Linked DNA regions of Homo sapiens. The protein of the gene in region 3 purifies or fractionates together with the protein of the main gene of each other region. This does not show direct contact. Each region holds a gene or a part of one and is shown on either strand. Other genes may lie near its edges.

The links.
Region 1: the proteins of STX17 (region 3) and CP purify together in Homo sapiens (affinity purification with mass spectrometry; one large-scale study listed by BioGRID and IntAct). This does not show direct contact.
Region 2: the proteins of STX17 (region 3) and LGALSL purify together in Homo sapiens (affinity purification with mass spectrometry; one large-scale study listed by BioGRID and IntAct). This does not show direct contact.
Region 4: the proteins of STX17 (region 3) and ME1 purify together in Homo sapiens (affinity purification with mass spectrometry; one large-scale study listed by BioGRID and IntAct). This does not show direct contact.

What each region holds. Positions count from the first base shown.
Region 1 is NC_000003.12:149,210,792-149,215,467, forward strand, and holds part of CP (ceruloplasmin precursor), read right to left. Parts: intron 1,908-4,676; coding exon 1,660-1,907; intron 1-1,659. UniProt on the Homo sapiens protein: Multifunctional blue, copper-binding (6-7 atoms per molecule) glycoprotein. It has ferroxidase activity oxidizing Fe(2+) to Fe(3+) without releasing radical oxygen species. It is involved in iron transport across the cell membrane.
Region 2 is NC_000002.12:64,459,384-64,462,919, reverse strand, and holds the end of LGALSL (galectin-related protein), read right to left. Parts: 3' UTR 1,539-3,536; downstream 1-1,538. UniProt on the Homo sapiens protein: Does not bind lactose, and may not bind carbohydrates.
Region 3 is NC_000009.12:99,943,790-99,949,232, reverse strand, and holds part of STX17 (syntaxin-17), read right to left. Parts: intron 1-5,443. UniProt on the Homo sapiens protein: SNAREs, soluble N-ethylmaleimide-sensitive factor-attachment protein receptors, are essential proteins for fusion of cellular membranes.
Region 4 is NC_000006.12:83,213,514-83,218,189, forward strand, and holds part of ME1 (NADP-dependent malic enzyme), read right to left. Parts: intron 3,084-4,676; coding exon 2,985-3,083; intron 1-2,984. UniProt on the Homo sapiens protein: Catalyzes the oxidative decarboxylation of (S)-malate in the presence of NADP(+) and divalent metal ions, and decarboxylation of oxaloacetate.

The DNA of each region.
Region 1 (4,676 bases), on a different chromosome or scaffold from region 3:
GGTTGAGAGAAGAAAATGCTGAACCTCTGTGTACCCATCAAACCAGCTTTAACAATGATCGACTCAAGGCCAACCTTGTTTCATCTGTACCCCCACACACTCTTATCCCCAGTATCATCAAATTATTTTAAAGCACGTCTCAGACATCATATTCCATTCATAAATACTTGAGTATGTATCTCTAAAAGATAGGAACCCTTTTTTTCTTCTAACAAAACCACAGTTCCATTACCATACCTTTAAAATGAATGGTAATTCCCTAGTAAGCCATGAAATCATTAAAAAGAAATAGGATGGCAGTCAGCCTTTTATGCTATGAATGTAATTTATCCCTAAACAACAACAAAAACAAAAAAAGTCAACACATTCACTTTCTAAACCAATATCTCTTTTAATAAGACAACTAATAATGAATCAAATCTAATTTTAAATTAATTTCCCTATTCGATCATTATAATTTCAATGAACTGTAGCATGACTTCAGCATTTTTGCTTATGATAGCAGCTGATAGTTATTGAGGTATTACTATGTATTCTTATTATCTCTATTTTATAGATGAGGAAACTGAAGCTGAAAGAACTTAAGTAATTTGTCCAAGGTCACTCAAACAGTGAAAGGCAAGGCTGGGGCTCAGACCTTTGTCTATTAATTTCAAAGCCCTTGCTTTTCATCACTACAAAATACCACCTTTTTTACCATCATTGTTAAGGACTAAGAATGAGATCACAGGCACCAAACCTTATCTTTGTTTTTCAGGTACTATTTTCAAGGCTTCCAAGTCCTACATTCAAATGACTTTTTCAGTTAATTGTGTCTCATATGTGACTACAGTCATCCAGGCATATGTACCATTTGACTGACATGAGACTACTTATGCCACCTTAGCTGGGGCAGAGTTTATATAAAGTTAGGATGGGAGGTAACAACAGCACAGTATGTTTACATGTAGGAACTTCAAAGATAAGGCAATCCACATCTTGAGTCCTTCTTTCTCTTCCCTCTGGATTTTGCCTCTTCTAGGCTCTGATGCACTTTGTCCATTTCTCTTATTCTATTTGGCCAGAAAGGACTGGGCTCTGGGAAAGAAGCTCCAGCTCTCTCTGACTCTCACTGAGTCCACCTAGAAATTCTCTCACATTCACACTTTCCACGAAAGAGCACAACCAAGAGAAACATGCCATTATTATATGGAAACAAAGTACCTATTAATAAAATAGTTGGCCGGGTGCAGTGACTCACGCCTGTAATCCCAGCACTTTGGGAGGCTGAGGCGGGCAGATCAGGAGGTCAGGAGATCAAGACCATCCTGGCTAACACGGTGAAACCCCGTCTCTACTAAAAATGCAAAAAAAAAATAAAAATAAAAAAGTTTGCCAGGCATGGTAGTGGGCGCCTGTAGTCCCAGCTACTCGGGAGGCTGAGGCAGGAGAATGGCTTGAACCCCGGATGCGGTGCTTGCAGTGATCCGAGGTCGTGCCACTGCACTCCAGCCTGGGTGACAGAAGTCAAAAAAAATTAAAAAAAAATAAAAAAAAAATAGTTAAGAGCTGAATGGCAGTTATATGTCTTATCCAGGAGAGAAGTCCACAATTTTAGAAGCTAAAAGGCACTTCTACTGAAAAGTAAGAGGAAATTCCAGCTACATGAGCTGAACTTACCCTCATGTTCCTTATAGTAAGTTATTCCATGTGAATGAAAGGTGTAGGGCCTAGAGGCAAGGTTTTTTAAGTGTACATAAACTTTATCTCCAGTTTCAGCTTTGATAATAGGGCCTAAAAACCCAAGCCAGACCGGTTTTTCTATAGTTGTCCTAAAGGTTTCATCTGTGTACTGAAGATAAAGGGCCTTCTTATATAGTCTCCCAATTCTATCTGGGCCATTTTGAAGATAGATATTGGAATGTTCCCTGCAAAGAAAAACAAGACAACTCTATCAGAAGCCATCATTTCTAGGGATGACATTATCATTATAATTTAATAACATTATAATTAGAGAAATTAATGAGCACATCACATTGAATGTTTGCCTGTTGTAGGGATGCCTCCAAAATTGAAGTGGAGGGCTGGTAGTTAGCCCTGTTATTTTAATGATGTGAGGCTTTCCATATCAGGTATATGTCAGAGAACCATCTGCGAAGGCATCATAGAAATGTAGTGCATCTTACTGAAGTATTTTCTCCATGATTTTTATATTAAGACACAGGCATATTATGTAATGGAATAGAATACAAAATTAAGTTGAAATATTAAAATAAAGCAGTTAATTAAGACATTTTTTCACTTCTACCTCTCTTAGCTACTGGAAAAATTTGAGTTTATAATTAATCAATCTGGATATTTGAGACTTCAAAGTATGTGTGTGTATATTTATATATTTTTTTCCTTAAAGTAAGATTAATAAAGCTAAATTAATTCTTTTATATTTCTTTTAACAGCACTAAATCAAAGCTAGAGTTGTTGATGCATGCAATGTGTGTGGTTTTTAAATTACTTTTGAATTTAAATAATCCCTGTGTTTTTTAATCCCTCACTAGTACAGATACTTAACATTGAATGTTTGTATTCTAGTGAATGTCCATTAATAGTTGCTTAAAACTTTCTTTAAAATATCAGTGAGGTAAATAGCAATCTGGAAAAGAAAAGATGGAAAGAAAGTAAATTTGGTTTGAATTAATTTCTTGTGTTATCAACCTTAACTGAAGGCTTATATAGCCCAGTGGGATCTATTCATGGGCAACATCATGTTGCCATTTGGCAGGACCCACTTAGATTCTGGCCTTTGGCAAGCCCCTCCACAACCAAGGCTCTTCCATTTGAATAAAAACTGCTCATCATCATGGGTGTGTGTGTGTGTGTGTGTGTGTGTGTGTGTGTGTGTGTGTTGCCTTCTTTCATCTTATTGATCTTTGATACTTTACCAATTTCTACTCAACATTTGTGGGGCCGAGTAATCTGACTGAGGAATAAGTTTTGTCTTGTTTCCTCAGTTGTAAGCTCACTGGTAAAAGTGAGATATATTTTTCTTTCCCTTCTTTAAGACAAGAGCAGAGCTTGTGTGAGAGCTCTGGACTTTCACTGCTACAGAATTTAAAGATGTGGTTTTTCAAAAGTCTAAGGCCTGATGTTTCTTAAGTCTGAATATGCACAGGAATCTACTGATGAACTTAGTGAAATGCAAACTCCTGGGACACAACTCCATTGATTCTGATTCTGTGGGTCTGGGGCAGGGCCCAGGTATCTGCATTATTAACCAACACACTGGTGTGTTTTGATGAGATAGTCTGCTCTGGGGCCCTGGGTAACCTGTGTTGAAGAGGCTCTAAGGTTGAAGATTAAGAGAGCTGCCCAATCCCAGAAGCAGTGGGATTCCTGATACCATGAGACAGAAAGGTAGAAAACTCGGTTTCCAGGTCATACCTGGAAGTGGCAGGACCTCTGCGGTGGAGGCTATATAGATTAAGCCTGAGTGCTGGGGCCAGGTACCATGGCCACTTGGCAATGGTCCTGGTGGCTGAGTTTGGGCAGAGTGAGCAGGTGTTGAAAATAAGAGTCACCATTCTCTGGATTGATCAAGGAATTTCTATGATGAGCGTTTCCTCCTAGTCACTACCATATACCAATACACTGGGAATACCAATTTTCCTGAATTGTATAAACCCGAATTCCCAAAGAAGATAAAATTATTCACTAAAAAAATGACTGAGATGATGTTTCCCTGTCCATCCCCTGTCCTGGTGGGAGGGCTAAGCTAGAAGTTAGAAAAATAAAGTGTCATTATTTGCAGCCTGTGTGGAGCAGCAAAACTGTGAGTATACCCTCATTTTTTCTATTTGTTTTCACTTTCTAATTGTTTGTTGCCATTTCCCAATTTGTTAAAGCAAAATAGGAAAAGATTGGGAGAGACTTCATGGACACAGGTAGGCATGGGAAAAGGGCAAGACACTGGGGTGAACTCTGTCCCTAAACCCATAGCAAGGAATGCACAGAAAGAGTCTTAATAAATATATGTCTTAACAACAGCAAAATTGTTGCATCAAAGACTACTAAGTTTAAAAGCAGAGAGTCATTCAGTCCATATGACTGAGAGGAGGTCAATAAGAGTGCAATTTCAGTTAGGTACACAACTGCAGCTGCAAAGTCTACAGTACAAAGGTACAATTCCACTCTGGTCCCACCGGAACCCTGGACCAATCAATCTCACAGAGACTTGTCTAAGCCCCAGGGTAAATTTTCTTAAGAGTCTGAACACACTTTTATTTCTGAGAGATTGATTTGATAATATTTGGAGACTTTACTCCATGCTTTACCATGTCCTATTGGTACACATCTTACATAGGCCAAAGTTAAAAGTTAGCCCTCAAATTCTTAAGGCTTCATTTAAATAAAATGTTTCTTTATATTTTCTGAATGTAAATACACTTTGGCATACATCATGTCCTATTTTGATAAACTATAGCAGGCTTTGTCAAAATGATTTTATTGCATTGAAATGCTCCTGTATTAATCATTTCCTAAAATAGGAAGAGCATTGCCATAAACAAATACCTAAGACCAAGACCAAGACCTATATTGCCTAGGCTTTGTAACTAATTTTTCTAGGCAAAGTTTTTTGGGGGGGTTAAAATTGCTTTTAAAATTATTGATCTGAAGGTATAACATATCTAGGCGTTTTAACA
Region 2 (3,536 bases), on a different chromosome or scaffold from region 3:
CATGATCATGGCCCACTGCACCTCAACTTTCCTAGCTCCATCGATTTTCCCTGATCAGCCTCTTGAGTAGCTGGGACTGTAGGCATATGTTGCCACACCTTTTTTTTTTAATTGAGATGGGGTCCCCCTAAGTTGCTAAGGCTGGTCTCAAATTCCTGGTCTCACATGATCCTCTGGCCTTGGCCTCCCAAAGTACAGGGATTACAGGCATGAGCCACCACACCTGGCCCAGGGTGGTTTTGAAAATACAAACCTCTGGGCCCTACTCCAGACCTGGTGAAACAGAAATCTCCTGGGGACTCGGGGAAGGGGAGAGCTATCTGCCTGTTAATCACACTGAAGTTTAAAGCCACCAGAGACCTTTGTCTTTTATACTCCAAGTGACACAGCTCAATAAATACCTGTTGAATGAATGAAGGCCTTAAGGAATCGTGGCACTCAAAGCTCCAATTATGGATATATTTTTTAGGCCATCTAATCCAAAATGCTGTCATAACGTAAGTAAAATGTGACATCCCCTAAGGGGCATTCCCAGCCAGGCTAGCGAGCAAGGGAAGCTCTCCTATCTTTTGTCCAACAGCCTCAGCAAGTTGTCCCTACCTTAACAGGCCTCATCTGCCAGTACTTAACTGCAAAAGCTGTGACAGAGGAACCAGCAAACCAGCCTCCCAATGCTGCACCCTAAAAAAAAATGGGATCAATAAAATTAAGGTATAAATAGGGCCCTAGATCTAGCATGTGAGTAAATCTGTCACCCAGCAATGATTGAAGCTGGGCAAACTTCTATAAGCCATACAGTTTTATCTGTAGGCTGAATAGCCAAGACATTAAATTTCTTCCCTAATCATTCAAACCACAGGAAAGAGAAGGCAAGAGAAATGCAATCTTGTTTTTGTATCTACATTGTGCTAAGATTATATTTGCTGATTAAAAACCCACTGCATCTTTCAACATCTGAATGGATTAACTGTAGTATATCTATGCAATGGAATGCAATAAAAACTATTGATATACACATGAATGACTCTCAAATGCATTATGCAAATTGAGAAGCCAGCTCTAAAAGATTACATGTTATACGATTGTTTTTATGACATTCAGAAAAATGCAAAACTATGGGGAGGGAGAATGGATCTGTGGACGCCTAATTAGGGTTAGGAACGGGGGACGAATTTATCTGCAAAGGAGTAGCACAAAGGAATTTTTTGAGATGATGAAATGATCCCGCATTCTGATTAAGATGGTAGTTACATGACTATATGTATATGTTAAAACTCAGAACTTTATACCAAAAGAGTGAATTTGCTGTATGCAAATTATATTTTAAAAGAACCCACTGCATTTACCATTCACAATGTAAGTTATTAGGTCTCTGAGGGCCCCAAGAGACTTTTCTTCTGTTTATCAGTGTGGGGAATGCAGGAAAAAGTTATCTTGAGGCATAAGTGTGAAAGTGAGGAATCACTGCTATGCCACGTGGTCTATGCTAAGTACTCTATACCTGGCGCCAAATGTAGCATGTTATAAACTGGAAACTGTTTTGTAGAAAATTCCTTTATTATAGTGCAAATTACTTTCAGCAGTGACATAATGTAACAACACATTTAGCAACATTTTACACCACACAGTAAATAAGAAAGTGTTTCTTTGAAAATATGTCATCATAGGAACATTATTTCTACATTAATGCCAGAAAATGCCAAGGCCGTTTATCTCAAGGCAAACAGGGCTCCCTCCTTCCTTTTGGGTATTTTCTTTTTAACACAAATGAAATGACTTGCCATTTTAACAAATCCTCAATTCTAAAAGTGATCTCTCAGGGGGCTTTGAACTAAGGTCGGCAAGATTTGAAATGGGGCTTCAAAATTTTAAATAATAATTTTAAAATACTTCTGGAATAGCCCAAAAAGTAGAAGTCACTTCTATTAAGTTTTAAGTAGATATACACACTCACTCCAATTTTACTGTAGAAATGGACAGATTGTCTAAAGCCTGCTTTCTATTCCCCCAGAGCCTGATTGTTATTTATACTCCTTGGTTTTGGTTATTGCAGAACTAGGGCTCTGGTCAGAAATAACACCTTACATACCCGAATACTTTCCTGTGGAAGCTTTACATTGCATTTTCCATCCTGAAATTCTCACCTTAGACCTTACAGGCCCAGGAGAGGGTGTGAATATTGTTTTCAGTTTACAGCTAAAGCCCCTTACTAATTTGGGCTATACCTGAATCAAATCATCACATCATTTAGATTAATCCCAATAGGCTTATCCAAGCGGTTCCCACTAACCTCACAGAGAAACAAACAGTTAACATTGTATTTTCACACTAAGCTGCCTAAGGGCTTGGCTGCTAATGAGTTAGCTGATAGGTAGACAGAATAAGCGTGTCAATTCCAATCAGTACACGCCCTGCTCCTCTAGTTTCTGCTGAATTATGCAGTGGGTGGGAATGGTTGGCCACTCAAAACAGTCTTCCTATGGGGCTCTTCCACCATAAGTTGGATCAAAACTCCACAAATGTATTTCAAGGTGCCCTTTAAGTCTCTCAAATTTAGGGACTTTTAAGTGACAAGCCATGAGAAGTTAATCACAGGCTTGAAAATACCTGGAACCACAGAACAGCCCCCACGGAACAGGCTGAATATGGTTAAATAAGTTGGCTGGTACATAAAGCTTTTCAATGTACAGCCAGTCTTGTTGGATACAGTGTCTTCTTATATAATACAATGGAACTGTGCTAAACAGTTTCAAAGTTGAGAAGAATCCAAATGTATCACCTATAAAAAATTCATAATTTTAGTTTATTTTAGACTTTGGTACTGAAACACTGTCTACATTCTTGACACTTGAAAATGACATGGTCACTTCAGTGCCTCTGCATGTTGTGTAAAAAAAAAAAAAAAACTCAAAAAAGGAAAGCAGGACAAGGATGTGTCATTACAAGACACAGTATGCTGTACAAACAAAACCTAAATTATATATAAATACACCCCCACCCCAGAACCCTGTCTTCCCTCACTACCTGATCAAAGCAATGCCAAGGGTCCCTCCCTCCAGGGCCAATGTAGCTTTTAAAGTCCAGAACCCAGGACTTTAAGCATCCCTTGCCTTGCGGTGACGTTTACAGTACTGCAACCTCCTGTTGGAGTCACCTGTTTGATCAGTTCCGTAAGTGCAGGGTAACACCTACAGCTTAATTGGAAGCATTCACTCTACTGGCTGGATTCAAAGACCTGGAGTCCTGGGAGTTAACCTTTCAGATAAACTAACTGGATCATTTCCTAATCTGGATCCTATCTAATCCTACTATCTCCTCAGAGCCAACACAGTAGGAAGCATCTTCTACTCTGAAGCTTCCAAAGGCATTACTTAGGGATATTGGTGAGGGTCACATAAGAAAAGTTATACAATGAGCTAACAGCTTAAGTTGATATAAATTACTTCCAAGTAAGTTATTCAGGGCCGTTTGCTTCTGCTTTACACTGCATTCCACAGTCATTTTCATATTATTCTTTTAAAAGTTTATACTATAGT
Region 3 (5,443 bases):
CCTAAGGATAATTAAACTGTAGATTCAAAATATGTGAAATGTAGGTATTAATATGTTAAAATTATATAACCTTAAAGGGGGCATAAGTGAGCATCTAATACAACCTCACAATTTTACAATAAGGAAACTGGAGTCTAGACAAACACAGTGGCAGAATTTGGACTACAGCCCAGGCCTCAAGTCCCAGAACAATACTGTTTCCAACACACCACCATTTCCTGGCTATGTGACTCCTTTCTGGACCATAATTATAAAGCTTGGTTATATAGTTACCAGTCTACAGAAATATTTTAGGTAATATTATCTTGGAGAAGCATTAAAAATTTTCTACAGCCAAACTTAATGAGCATTTGTTTGTGACACCTTCCTCACTTATGTAATTTGTACATATGTCTGTCCCCAGTCAAATTACAGTATCCAGCTAAGAACTCTATTACTATGAGTAATGTGGAAAATTTTGAGGGAGAGAAAGAAAAAACCCACTGAAGTATAAAATCTGATACTATAATAACAGCAACAATGATAACAAAAACATAAATAGTGGCTAAATTTTAATCAACACTTAAAGTTATCGATTGTGCTAACAGCTTTACGTCTTTTATCTTCCCCTCACAATATATCTTTGAAATGGATATTACTATTATTCTCATTTTATAGAAGAGAAAATTAAAGCAAGAAGTTCAAAAAGTAGCCCAGGATTACACTGCTAGTAAATAGTATAGGCAAGAATCAAATCCAGACCACAGATCTTGTGTTCTAACTACTTTATTACATAGCAAACACCATCCAACACAAACATAATGCAAATCACACACACAAGCCACATATGTAATTTAAAAATTTTTTAAATTACATTAAAAAAGTAAAAACAAGGGAAATTAATTTTAATAATATTTTATTTAACCTAATATAGCTAAAATACTATTTTAATATGCAATTATAAAACTTAAAATCTTTTACATTGTTTTATTTGTAGTAAGTCTTAGAAATCTGGTATATATTTTACATTCACAGCACATCTCAGTTCAAACTGGCTACATTTTAAGTGCTCAACAGTCACATGTAGTTAGGAGCTACTACATTGGATAGGGCAACTAGGGAATCTCTCTAAAATCAAACAGAGGGAACAGGATGGTAAAACCATATATGAAGAACATAAAGTCAGGTGTTTCTGCTTCTGAAAACAGCAGGCTAGGTGATTCAGACTAACCTTCCCACTAATGGCTACTTCAAAAGTTGAACAAAAATCAAATCACAAAACAAACCAATAGGAAAAAAAAAAAAAACTTGAAAAGTACCATAAAGCAAACAAGATAGTAAGTAACTATAGGACAAGAATTGGGCAAAGATGGAAATCTAGAGAGGTGAGTCCTGAACTCAGGACCACATTTGCTTTGGGAGTATTTGCATACCAGAATATAAACTCACAAAGCTTGGATTAAAATTTCAATGCCAAGACCTGCTAAGTATAAGGACTCTGGTACTTTTGGCTGGGATCGTCAGAGCTCCACCCTAGGAACACAGGTAATCCTAAAATAAAGCAGCCCTTGCATGAACTACAGACTGGCCTCCAGTCTCGAGTAGCTCACAGAAAACCTTAAGCTCTAAAATTGGATAAAGATAATCTTGGAAAGTTAGTGCCCCCAGCGGCTTAGAAGAGCAAATGAAAATATCTGGAGGAAGATAACATCATCCCTAGCTTCAAATAATTTCTATAAATAATGTTTCAAATACAATGTCCACCAATCAAAGATTACCAAGCACATGAGGACATATGCAGCATGAGGAAGAAACAGCAAAAACAACAGGCAACAGAAACATCCAAAAGGACATGTAATGAGGGAATGAGCAAATGTAGTCTACAAAACTATAGTTATTTTGTTCAAAGGCATAAAAATAAAGCTTGAAAATTTAGCAGACAATTGGAAACTATAAAAAGCAACATATAGGTTTTTTAATGAATATTCTATAATTTTAAAATAATGTCCACAAGAATTTAATAATTGAGTTTAGCTTCATATTAGGCCCAGTTCAAGAAAGATATAAATTGGAAAACAGATCTGAAGAAACTATGTAAAAAAGAAACAAGGAAAGTAAAAAATATAGAAGAAAAGTTAAGAAATACAGAAGATATAGTTAGAAAAGGGTACAATATACATTTACTTAGAATTCCAGAAGAAGACGGAAAATGAATTTGAATAGATAATGACTGAGAATTTTCAAAACATTGAAGAAAAACATCCATCCACAATTCAAGGTCAACAAATCCTGAGAAGAATAAATAAAAGGAAAAATACACCTAGCCAGAAGAGAGAAAAAGAAGGAGAAAAGATGTCTAAAAGCAGCTAGAGACAAGAGTTTCTTGCAAAGAAACAGTAAGATTATAATACGACTTCTCAACAGCAATAACGAAAGCCTAAAGACAATGGAACAAAATATTCAAAGTATAGAAAGCAAATTACTATCAACCTAAAGTTCTATATGCTGCAAAAATATCTTTCAAGACCACAGGTAAAATAAAAATATTTTTAGACAAACAAAAGCTGAGAGAATTTGCCTTCAGTCAATAACACACAGTAAGAGAAATATTAAATGGTGATCTTCAAAAATAACAATTAATCCCAGATAAAAAGTTGGAAATGCAAAAAGAAATGAACAGAAATGAAAATATGCTAAAAAGTGGGTAAATCTAGATGACCAGTAACTCTACTAAAACAATAATACTAATGTCTGTGGTGTTTAGAAATATTTATATAAAAGTAGCATTTAAGTTGCAGGGCATACATGGAACTAAAATAGTCTAAGGAACTGATATTATCTGTACTTCTAAGTTAAAGATGTACGTTGTAATTTCTAGTAAAAGTATATACATTTATTCCTTGGTATCCATGGAGGATTGGTTCCAGGACTCCCTGCAAATACCCAAAATCCATAGATGTTCAAAGCCTTACATAAAATGGTGTAGTATTTGTGTAAAACCTATGAATATCCTCCTGTATACTTTATCGCTAGATTACTTATAATACCTAATATAATATAAATACTATATAAATTGTTATACTGTACTTTTATAGAGAACAGTGACAAGCAAAAGAGTCAGTACAGATGCAACTATCCATTCTTTTTGTTTTTGTTTTTGTTTTTGTTTTTGAGATGGAGTCTTGCTCTATCGCCCAGGCTGGAGTGCAGTGGCACGATTTTGGCTCACTGCAACCTCCGCCTCCCAGGTTTAAGCGATTCGCCTGCCTCAGCCTCCCGAGTAGCTGGGATTACAGGCGCCAGCCACCACGCCCATCTAATTTTTTTGTATTTTAGTAGAGATGGGGTTTCACTATGTTAGCCAGGTTGGTCTCGAACTCCTGACCTCAGGTGATCCACCCACCTCAGCCTCCCAAAGTGCTGGGATTACAGGCGTAAGCCACCGCGCCCGGCCGCAACTGTCCATTTAAAAAAAAAAAATTTTTGTTCCACAGTTGATGAAATCCTTGGAGAAGGCTCAAATGTAGTTCCTAAACTAGAAAGGAAAAAATTAGATAAATTAAAAAAAACAAGATCAATACAAAAGAAAGTAAATATGGAGATTTAAAAAATATGTTTAAGAAATAGCACACAATAAGGTGAAAGATTTAAACCTAAATATATCGATAATTACATTAAATAAAAATGAAATAAATATTCCAGTTACAGGATAAAGATTTATAGACTGAATTTTAAAAAACTTAAGCGATTGTATCTAAAACATAAAGAAAAGAATGGTTCAATGTAAGAAGATGAAAAAGATAAACCACTTTAACCCTAACACCTCCTCTCCAAAGAAAACCTGCTGCGGCAATATTAGAAAAAACAGACTTTAAAGCCAAAACATTGCTAAAAATAAAGAGAATCACTTTATAATATCTGTACCAGGAATATATAATAATACCTAAGTTAAGTACACCTAATAACATACCCACAATACATATAATGCAAAACCGGACAAGAACTATAAAGAAAAATTGAAACAAATCCACAATCATAAGGGAAAGCTTTAACACCTTTAAGTAATTAACAGAACAAATGGACAAAAGGATGTTAAGTTAATATAGAGGATTTGAACAATAAGTTTAACACAAACTAGATATAAATTATATAGAACATTATACCAAACAAGGTGAGAATACACATGTCAAAAACACACAAATACACATGGAGAACAATTATAAAAATTGATTATACACTAAGTCTTAAAGGAAGTTTTGACAAATTTCAAAAATATTGACACTGATATCATACAGACCATATACTCTGATCATAATAAAATTAAACTTGAAATCATTAATAAAATATATCTATAAACATTTCATGACCAATAATGAAGAAAGACATATTTCTAAATAACCCACAAGTCAAAGAAATCACAATAGAAATAAAAAATGCTGGCTGGGCGCAGTGGCTCATGCCTGTAATCCTAACACTTTGGGAGGCTGAGGAGGGTGGATCATCTGAGGTCAGGAGTTTGAGACCAGCCTGACAAACATGGCGAAACCCCATCTCTACTAAAAATACAAAAAATTAGCCGGGTGTGGTGGTGGGCACCTGTAATCCCAGCTACTCGGGAGGCTGAGGCAGGAGAATCTTTTGAACCCAAGAGGCGGAGGTTGCAGTGAGCCAAGATTGCACCATTGCACTCCAGCCTGGGCAACAAGAGTGAAACTCCAACTTAAAAAAAAAAAAAAATGCTTTGACCTGAATGAAAAGAAAAATAATGCATATTTAAACCTACAGGCAGCCAAAGCAATACAAATTTATAGCTGTAACTGCATATATATATATTAGAAAAGAAAAAAGGTTGAAAATTAGTAGACTGAAAATCCATTGCAAGAAACTAGAAAATAGTAAAAACAATTGCAAAAAAAGTAGAAAGGAGAAAATAATAAAAATGTAAAAATAAATTTGATGAAACAGAAAAACAAACATAATACAATAGATTAACCAAGCCAAAACTAGATTTTTGGGAAGACTAATAAAATTGATAAACCTCATTGACAAATAATTTTAAAAAATAGAGAAGGCATAAATAACCAAAATCAGAAATGAAAAACGGCATTACTACTGATCTTGCAGAATTAAAAAATAAAATATTCTGAAAAAATGTATGCCAATAAATTAGAAAACTTAGATGAAATAAATTATTAGAAGACTATAACTTATCAAACTGACAAACAGAAACCAAAATAGTCATATAATTATTAAAGAAATTAAATGTATATTTTGAAGTCTCTCTTCCTCGCCACACAAAACCAAAACCAACTAAACAAACAAACAAAGAAAAAGCCCAGCCTGATAGTTTTACTGGCCAATTCTACCAAATATTTAAAGGAAATTACACAAATTCTTCAAAGGCACAGAAAAAGACCATCCTCTAACTCTTTATGATAGCACAACCTTGAAACGAAACTTAAGA
Region 4 (4,676 bases), on a different chromosome or scaffold from region 3:
GCCACCACACCCGGCTAATTTCTGTACTTTTTTAGAAGAGAAGGGGTTTCGCCATGTTGGCCAGTCTGGTCTCAAACTCCTGACCTGAGGTGATCCACCTGCCTTGGCCTCCCGAAGTGCTGGGATTACAGGTGTGAGCCACCGTGCCCAGCCGAATTCACATCAGTTCTTAAAACAATATTTATATGACTGACTTATTTTGATAAGTCTGATTTCAAAGAATATCAGAATGATTATCTCATCTCAATGTAAAACTATGCATTTATGAACAATTAAGGTTATGAATACTGTGCTGTATTATGAAATGTCTATGAAAAAGCAGGAAACAATATGTATATTTCATAATTATAATAATGTTAGAAAATAAACAAACGAAAGACTCAAAACAAACACAGGAAAAAAAATAATACTTATATTAGAAAAATAGGATATTGGTTATTTTCCTTTTCTCTATTTGTTTTCCAAAGTGCCCATAATATGGTAGTATTACTTTTTAAACAGATTTATTGAGATATAATTCACACAAAATTCAAGCATTTTAAGTGTACAACTAAATTATTTTTGTAAATTTACTGAGCTGTGCAACAATATTACCACATTCAGTTTTAGAATATTTCCATCACCCCAAAAAGATCCCTCATGCCTACTTAAGATGGCTATGTTAATTTTATAATAAAACACATTGTTTCATTACTGACATAGACTATGTGGAAATTCATCTCCTCTTTCTGCTCCCAGTTATACCATAGAAATAATCCCTTCTCCCAATGAAATCTTCACTCTCTCTGTCCTGTCAATGCCAAACTCTCTGACAGAGTGGCTTATATTTTATTGCTTTCCTAATTCTCTGCCTTCTGAACCTCCTGTACATCTTGAAATTTCTTTTGTAAAAGTCTCTGATAACTTGTTAAGTACCAAATAAAAGTCTGCATCTGTTTTTCTCTCCAGGATTTGGCTGTGTTGGTCACAATTTCCACTCCCATTCTGAAATTGTCTCTTTCCTAATTATTGACATGCTGCTCAGTTTGGAGTCTCTTAAAATCCTGACCACTTCTCTTCTTAACTGGCATCTTTCTTCTGTCTTCTAGACAGAATAATAAACTATATTCTATTCTCATTTTTATTTCCTTTCTATACTTGCTTTCTTGGCAACCTCACCCACTCCTAGATATTCACCAGTTACCACATGCAGAAGATGCCCAGGTCTTTTATCTAGCCTCTCTTTAAGTTTCAGTCATTTCTATCTACTTGATAAAATGGTACATTTGAATGTGCCATTGATACCTCAAACTTGCAGTCCACTTACATGATCTCCCTCTCTGAAGTTGGTTCTTTGTTCTAGTTTCTCAATTTCTGTGTATGCACTCTGTATTCTTCCATTATTCTAGGTGTGATATCTGAATCTTTTGGCACTCCCCTGCTGTCCCCTGCTTTTTTTCCCCTCTAATCATAAGCTAACTCTTTTTCATTTAAATCTCCAAAATGAACTTAAAATGATAATATGCTATTCAGTATATTAATAGTTTAAACTACTTAAAAACTAGCAGATACATATTAGTAGAATATATGAACATACTTTTTCATAGATAACCAAGCAGATTATTATGTAAAGGTTTTTAGAGAATTACTTCTTTTTTTAAGAGACTGCCTTCAGTCAACGAGATAAATAATGATATGTGACTCTTAAATGGTGTTGTTTAGATAACTTGCTAATAGCTTAAGCTAGTGATTTTCAATCTGGAGCAATTTGGCCCCCAAGGGGATACTTGACAATGTCTGGAAACAGCTTTGGTTGATACAACTGAGCAGATGCTACTGACATCTAGTGGGCAGAGGCCAGGAATGCTGCTGAAGATTGTACAATGCCTGGGACAGCCGCATGATGGTTATTGACCCAAAATGTCCACAACGCTGAAGTAGAGAAACCCCAATTTAAACATATAACTACTGTCATGGCTAAACTGTGTTCCTCCCACCCCAAATTCAGTGTTGAAGCCCTAACCACTAGTACCTCAGAATGTGAGTGTATTTAGAAATAGGCCTTTAAGGAGATAATTAAGTTAAAATGAGACGGTTAGAATGGTCTATAATCCAATTTGATAGGTGTCCTTAAGAGAAGAGGAAATTTGGACACACAAGCGTGTACACACACAGAGAAAAGGCCATATGGGGACACAGAAAGAGGGCAGCCATCTGCCAGCCAAGGAGAGAGGCCTCAGAGGAAACCAAACCTGCAAACATCTTTATCTTAGACTTCTAGCTCCCAGAATTATGGGAAAATAGTTTTCTGTTGTTTAAGCCACACAGTCTGTGGCTTGAATATTTAAAAACAGTTACTACATAACCGTGGTATGTAGTTATCCCAGCCCAAGAAAACTAATACAATTACACTGCAAAAAAAGTCCACTTATCTTCCAGTTTAGTTACAGAAAATTTCTCTGCCTTTGGGTTCTTCTTGGCTAACTCCTTCAGTAGCTCATCTGCCACCCAAACAGCTTTCAAGTTCTTTGACCTCTTTATTTTGCCTTCCGCCCAGTATTATCAGTTGTGATCTGTCATTTATGATGCCACACATCATAGTGACATGGATATGGAAGGTGGTTCAAGGTCTAAATGTTACTCTAACATATCTGTAATATTTTGGTTAATTATCACTAATGTGATATAGAAAAGAACAACTTTAAAAAGGTGAAATGGGAGAAATCTGGCTGACAGGAAGCCCTAATGAATTATTTAAATTTTAGGAGAAAAAAAGAACGATAGAGAGGGAAATTAATTATTCGGCCCAATACTTCCATTCTTCTCTGAGAAGCAAATGTAGCTCCTAAGCTCTACAGTGTCAGTGTGCCTCATTTCTCTGACTTCTGACATAGTAAGTTGATACAGATATACATTTCAAGGAAGCAGATTTTTAATATTTAAAAATGCATATTTAGCAAGAAAAGGAAGGAAAAATAATGAAGCTTGAACAAGAGTGGTTTTACCTTTTCTGCAATTTTCAGAGAAACATCTCTAATGGTATTCAAAGGAGGATAAAGCCGACCCTCTTCCAAGTGTTTATCTGACACTTGCTGAGCTATAACCTTATGAAAAAAAGAAAGAAAAAAAGTGTTTATACTTCACACGATACAATGTGGTGGGTACGCCAATAACTAAGTGAACGGTTACATATAATGGTCTATACAAAAACCAGTGACATTAATATGATTACCTAATTTCATCCCCACTTCTATCAACAAAGAAATAAGCCCAGAGTGGTGTGGTGGTGGTTGAGATCACATAATTGGTGAAAAAGATGGGAATAGAATCTAGGTTTCCTTTTAGTCCACTTCCTTTTCTATTGTACCATGAAATGCTAGATACTTTCCAATTGATACATTAGGGGAACAAGGGAAAAGAAAAGAAAGAAAGAGGAAGATGATAGAGTAATGAAAATGGATCCTGAAAGCAGAGGAGGACAGCTATCCAAGGCTAAGCATGCCATTACTCCCAGCTCTGAGTCATATTCTTGTGCAGGAGGTAGAGCAAAAGGCTGAGAAAGCTAGTTCAGAGTCTCACTACAAATAGGATTTTAATTTTACACAGACTCTGGATTATCTAAATCACCTAATTAGCCTCAACATTTACTGTCCCCAAACCATTCCCTAGTTCCAAATCAAACAGTGTTAAATTTTGTATTGAACCCTAAGGCAGAGAGGGAGACTCAGTAACCCTGATGTTCTCTCCAGCTCTAAGACTTTGATTAAATTTCTAGATGGGGGCAAATCTAAATCAGCTTATACCTAGGCCTTTGTTCCATGAAAATGTGGATGCAGAGAGGGAGTAGGAAACCTTCCTCTTTTGTAACATTTTAAATAATCAAATACTTATTTTTCAGTATATCTTAATATCTTTTAGATTTTTAAATCATGAAATTATTTCCAAAATATTATTCTTTGCCATCAGCAAACATATATGCACTGAACAAGCATAACACTACGGAGAAGCTTAAGAAAAGTGTTATTGTCCTTGAGAGATGTATAATTTAGTAAGGTAACAGAGTACGGGAAGAAAAAGAGAACGCTGAAAGAGAAGACGGCTTAGGCTAATGGTGAAATGTGGGTGCTAAGAAATCCAGAGGAAGAGCAGTTCTGGAAGGCCTTATAGTGCACAGTGGCTTGAAAGGCAAACCTACAGGAAAGCCTGGAGTTAGACAAACAGAAAGTAGGTAGGCATTTCAGACAAAAAACAGAGTCAGACCAAAGGCAGAGTTGTGTGTGAGCTGGACTCAGCAGGCCCAAGTGTCCTGACCTGGGGGAGCAGAGGGTCTGGGTACAGAAATAAGGACTGGAGCATTATCAATGTCAAAAAAGGAGTTTGGAGTTAAATCCCGTCGGTGACTAAGGACTTCTGACCAGGGACATTTAGGCAGAGGTAAGATGGAAAGGAGAAGGAGGTAAAGTTACTAGTATAACTATTTGTTTGATTAGTATTGCTCTACATATTATACAAAATATTATAACATATAATTGTAGGGTGTTGACCATAATTTTATAATAAACTCATCATTTAACTCATTAATTTCTTGCCTTTGTAACAGGATGTTTGCCCTAGAATTGGTCATCAGGGTCCCAAACTTCAGGACAAAGATACGTTAACTATTCCACACTATCAGGAAGTCACCAAACAAGTGGGGC